Regions from separate parts of the Homo sapiens genome. Here region 2 is linked to region 1. Evidence: fine-mapped expression QTL. A gene starts in region 1. The other region holds a variant in brackets. All regions are shown on one strand. Distances are between the middles of the regions. Region 1 holds the start of SLC39A12-AS1 (SLC39A12 antisense RNA 1). Region 2 has its middle 3.8 kb from the start of CACNB2.

Evidence for each region. PIP is the estimated chance that this variant, and not a neighbour inherited with it, causes the effect. A credible set is the group of variants that fine-mapping cannot tell apart.
Region 2: its variant is the best candidate, but not a certain one, in a credible set for the expression of SLC39A12-AS1 in prefrontal cortex (CommonMind, PIP 0.67).

Annotation. Positions count from the first base shown.
Region 1 is chr10:18,009,205-18,012,129 of GRCh38, forward strand. SLC39A12-AS1 (SLC39A12 antisense RNA 1) reads right to left here and starts at 1,358. Exons shown (of 5, transcript NR_038419.1): 1 at 1,325-1,358; 2 at 461-549. The region is part of intron 12 of SLC39A12 (solute carrier family 39 member 12); the gene reads left to right.
Region 2 is chr10:18,135,189-18,138,113 of GRCh38, forward strand. No RefSeq gene overlaps it. Among named protein-coding and RNA genes, the nearest start is that of CACNB2, 3.8 kb to the right of the region's middle. RefSeq lists an enhancer at 735-1,701. The variant G/A (reference allele first, on the strand shown) is at 1,402.

The DNA.
Region 1 (2,925 bases):
TCAAGGGGCTATCACTGTAGATGTAACTAGAGATGTCCCTACAATGGGGGGAACTGGACAACTGCCCAGGAATTTAGTACATTAATAGAACCCAAGCTGATGGAGGAGCTGTAACTTAGGGAGGGAGCTAATGGAGAAGGAAGTACCTGTCCAATTCATGCCAAAACAAAATAAAACATAGCCCAGGTGCCCCCTCCAGGTGTATCCAAGGCAAATGAATTGGAATAGGGGAAATATCCAATTTCAAACCCTCTTCCCCCATCAACCTCCCTCACCATATAGGGTTCTAGATCTCTTCCCCCACCCTCACGTTTTTTGGATGCTCTTTAAAAACTTCATTTCCTCTCCAAGACTATCCCTTATGTTTCTTCAACCTTATTTTACTTATCTAATAACTTTGCAGGCAGGGGATTGGGGGGAGCAGGAACCTCAAGAATAAAAAGCAGTCAGAGCAATTTACTTATCTTCCCTCTTGTGAGAAGTGTCGCCCAGAAGTAATATCACAGCCAGACCTTTGCCTGGAGGACTTTCAATTTCCAGATAATTTTCCTTAAGTGAAAGGCAGGATAAAAGGTATTTTGAATATGAATTTAAGATCTTCTACCTTTAAAACATATCCAAAAATGCAAAAATCAAACCTGAGTATTCAATCTGGTCAATAAACAGGATTATCAATATAGTTCATCCTCTCTACACTTATTGTAGGTCAGTAAATGTAGCAGCTTCAAGAACATGAATTGGGTAAAAGCAAAAAAACATTAATTGAGTGACAAACATCCACCTTTCTAGCCAGGCTTCTCCTCTCTTCTTCATCATATAACTATAAAATTAAACTAAACTAGAATCCTAGACTTTTAGAATATTGATCCCATTCCCTCCTCCCCATTTTTCTTTCTTTTTCTTGTGATTTACTGAGTTTGAATGAGTCTTTCTTTATCAGAGAAATCTAGACTCCGAGGCAATTCAGTCAAAGATCTGCAATCACCAAGTCAGGTCTGGTAAATGAATCCTTTCTCCATCCAAAAGATGAGTAAGTCTTCCTTTCTTTGAAGTTTGGCAATACCTAAGTGTAATTTCTGTTAAACATCCACCCACAGGAAGAGATTTTGTTTGAAAAAGACATATGAAGTAACCTTGATATACGTATTTGTTTTCAACAAATATTGTAGTTAAAATCAATGAGTTCCATTGGCATCATTTTAAATATCCTTTGGCTGAGAAAGAAATAGCAAGCATTCAAAACTCAATTCAGGCAGCAAAATTAATGTAATTTAACATTCACAATTATTTCTTAACAAAAGCAAGAAGGGTGAATCATTCTTACCCACAAATTTGAAAGACTTCTATTCTCTTTCTGTAAAAATCAGTCAAACCCCACACTTAGAAATTTTCTACTGAGAAAATGAGTAATTAAGCCAACTTTGGTGAACGCTGAATTCTCTCTATAATTAAAAGAAACTGACCATCAGAAATGCTGGTATTTTTCTACTCCTCGTTCCTCTTTTCTTCTAACTAATTTCTCAGATCATACACACACATACACACAGATCTTCCAAAGCAGTTATTTTAAAAATGCAGTTGGCCCTAGAACAACATGGGTTTGAACTGCATGGGTTCACTTATACTCAGATTTTCTTCCACCTCTGCCACCTCTGAGACAGCAAGACCAACCGTTCCTCCTCCTCCTCCGTCCCTTCAATGTGAAGATGAGGATGAAGACCTATATGATTGTCCACTTCTACTTAACTAATAGTAAATGTATTTCTCCTCTTTATGATTTTATTTTCTTTTCATTTCGTTTCTCTTTTCTTCTTTCTTTTCTTTCCCAAAACAAAATAATACAAAGCCCAGGCGCCCCCTCCAGGTATTTCCTCCCTTCCTTCCTTCCTTCCTTTCTTTTTTTGAGACAGAGTCTCACTCTGTCGCTCAGGCTGGAGTGCAGTGGCGCGATCTCAACTTACTGCAGCCTCTGCCTCCCAGGTTCAAGCAATTATCCTGCCTCAGCCTCTGGAGTAGCTGGGATTGCAAACATGTGCCCCCATGCCCGCTTATTTTTATGCTTTTAGTAGAGATGGGGTTTCGCCATGTTGGCCAGGCTGGTCTGGAACTCCTGGCCTCAAGTGATCCACCTGCCTCAGCTTCCCAAAATGCTGGGATTACAGGCATGAGCCACTGCACTCATCCCCCTTATGACTTTCTTAATAACATTTTCTTTTCTCTAGCTTACTTTATTGTAAGAATACTGTATATAATACACAGAGCATATAAAATATGTGTTAATTGTGTTATTGGTTAGGCTTCTGGCCAGCAGTAGGCTATAAGTCGTTAAGTTTTGGGAGAGTCAAAAGTTATACATGAATTTTCAACTGTGCAGGGATCAGCATCCTAACCCCCACATTGTTCAACTGAACTAAAGCTGGCTGACATCTGTCTTTGCTGAGCTTTACGACTAAGAATTTGTCTAACTGAATCACTTCCCCTAAGGAAAAAAAGGAGAAGAGAATTGTTAAATACAAGTTTAAAGCAGGTAACATCTTAGTCTCTCCTAATTGCGTGTGACAGTGATGTGCTCTTTATCTTATAACTCACAGTTTTCAAAAAAATGTAATTTATCTTCTGCAAACTGCTTCATGAATTGCCTTGAGAAGATCCCACTGGGAAGTGATAGACATATAAGATTCTGTATTTGAATTATTCAGCAAATAAAATTTTTAAAGCTGAAGATTTTAAAACAACCTTGAGAATAGCCTCCGGGTTGGCTATCCCATATAAGTTGAGAGCTGTGGTCTTTGCTTTCTTGAATAACAAGGAAGGTTAAAACAGCTATGTTAAGTTGTTTATTGAACATAAATACTAGTTGAAAAAGACCTAAATTCAAAACAGTGGGAACAAACCGCCTGATTTCAGGAGATTCTTGAGTCAACA
Region 2 (2,925 bases), 130 kb after region 1:
GTAGCTAGTTACTCAAGCCTCGGTTCCTAAATGTCAGCATGATGCAGAGCTATTTCTAATGGGGAACTTCTACTCCAGTATACATTTCTTTCAAATCCATTGAATATTCAGACTGTATGTTATAGCAGTTTGACTTACCCTAATTAACATAGAGGAATAGTGATATCTACCTCACAGGCAAAGACAATGCATTTAAGTTCTTAATAGGAAGCCTGGCGCCTCATATGTAAACAAAAGTATCAGTTGTTATAACAAGGTTTAGATGAGAAATAAATCAGATAGATCATAAATGAATGTGCTTTATAAACTAAAAAGTGCTATATACTATTGAATATTCCAGAGTGCTCTCCTGGGTAGTTTTAGGAACTCATGGAATCTCATTTCTGTGAAGTCTTTTCTCTGGAAGTGAAATTAGGCTTTCTCTGAACACTTGTACATTTCAGTTTTAAACTTTTACTATCCATACAGATACATTCAATCCCATTATAATGGATTTGCTTGCATCTTTATATGCTTTTAAATAGCAGTCTGTAATTCAGGGCATAGGTTTACAAAAAGCAAACATGTAACTTCATGGAATGCATCATACCAAGTCAGGCCAGTGGCCAATACAGCTATATATCCTTATGAAAATGCTATTAATAGTGGTGGAAATTCAGGACTTTCAGTGAGGTGTAAAATGATTTACTGAGTAAAATGAGAAATCATACATGTGTATCTGTCCTAAAAAGCTCTTTCTTTAAGGTGTTAAATGTAGTCACAAATCTGCAAGCAGGAGAGGAAGAATAAAGCACTTGTAATCACTGTTTCTTCCACTTACAGAAAAAATAATCTTTTAAAACGTCTGGCTTCATTAGCCAGTGTCTCTTACCAGCCCCTGTTCCTATTTCAGAGCATTAGTAATTCCCAGAATATGTCTGTCCATTACAACAACTAATGAGCACAAGGAAGCTAACATACAGCTTGAATAAATTAGTCATCTGCATTTGAATGCGTCGATGGCACATCCATTATTGCTGGAGTCTCTTGCATCTGCTTAACTTTTAACATGAAAAGAATTAGGCTTTACTTACCAAATTTTTGCTTTCCTCTGTGGCTTTTAAATATTGCGCAAGTCAAAGAATCTTAAAAACAAGATCAACCGTGATTGAAGGCATCTATACATTTTCCAAGTCTTTTTATTCTGTTTATTCTGATTTTGCTCCCTTTTTCAGGAGTAACATTTTGTTACTCTGTGTTTGAAATCTTTTACAAGCCAGACAAGAGTCTGAATGGGTACATTGTATTGGATTAGTGTTCAATGCATGCTAATTAAACTAGTTTGAGTTATAAAGGAAGAAGTAGTATAATGTTCTCATGGGAGTCAGGCTTAGGTAAATGTTGTCATTGTACGTTAAAACT[G/A]GCAAAGTTGTATGCTGTGTTTTAAGACGCAAGAAGTCATTCAACATTCATGCATTCATTTAGACAACAAATGTTTTCACGTTCTAACTAAGTGGCAGACACCATGCTGGGTGGTGCTGGGGATACTAAGATGAAAAAGACGCCATCACTGCCCTCAAGGAACCCTATCTAGTGGTAGGGAGAAACATAAAAAAACAGGGAGTTCATATTATGAATTATATGAAATGAATATATTGTATTACATTTGAACATTTAATTCAAACTTTACTTGCCCTCTGGTTATAAGCGTTATTAAAATTATTTTCAAGGTTTTGATTTTTTTGCGGTCTCTTTAAACATCTGATGAAAGATGAAATTCTACTTCCCAAATGGTCCTAATTGAAAGCGAATGCACAAATAAGCATGCTATAAGAAACTGGACAGACATCATGAGAAAACACTCAGTTTCACCAAACCTGGTGTTTTTTTTTAAATAATGTTTCTTCTTTTGTTTTCTCCTTCCTTCCTTCCTTCCTTCCTTCCTTCCTTCCTTCCTTCCTTCCTCCCTCCCTCCCTCCCTTCTTTCCTTCATTTATTAATTGGCTTTTAAGTGCTAACTAGCAAGACTGTAAGCCCCATGGAGCTGGTAACCTGGTCTTTGTTGGCTGTGCTCATCAGGTGGCACAAAATAGAAGCTTGATTCATACTTTATTGGATGACTATTGAAAGAACTCAGAGGGCAACTTGCCAGATTCTGAATGTGTCCTAGAGAATAAGTGTGGTTCCTGTCCACACAGAGTTTACAGTCTGAAATGGATTTAATGTTTTCCCTAAGATTTAAACACATGCTCAAGAAAACTTCACAGTTTGATTAAATGAGTAGGCCTAAAACAGTGATATTATCAACAGAGCATGGGGCAAAAGTAGACTATAAGTCGAAAACTTTAAACACAATTTCTTTTCCATTTTCACACACACATACATACAGGCATACATATAAAAGCATGGCTGATTGTTGCTGTTCAAAATGTTCCCATTTTAGAAATTATTACAAACCAATATTTAAGTGCTGCTGTTTAACATTCAGCAAAATTTAAATAAAAGTGGCATTTTAATTTTTTTAATTTTATTTTTCCATAAGTTATTGGGGTACAGGTGGTATTCGGTTACATGAGTAAGTTCTTTAGTGGAGATTTGTGAGAACCTGGTACACCCATCAACCTAGCAGTATACCTTGCACCATATTTGTTGTCTTTTATCCCGTGCCCCCTCCCACACTTCCCCCCAAGTCACCAAAGTCCATTGTATCATTCTTATGCCTTTGCATCCTCATAGCTTAGCTCCCACATGTCAGTGAGAACATATGATGTTCGATTTTCCATTCCTGAGTTACTTCACTTAGAATAATAGTCTCTAATCTCATCCAGGTCATTGCAAATGCTGTTAATTTATTTCTTTTCATGGCTGAGTAGTATCCCATCATCATATATATCAGAGTTTCTTTATCACCTCGTTGATTGATGGGCATTTGGGTTGGTTCCACAA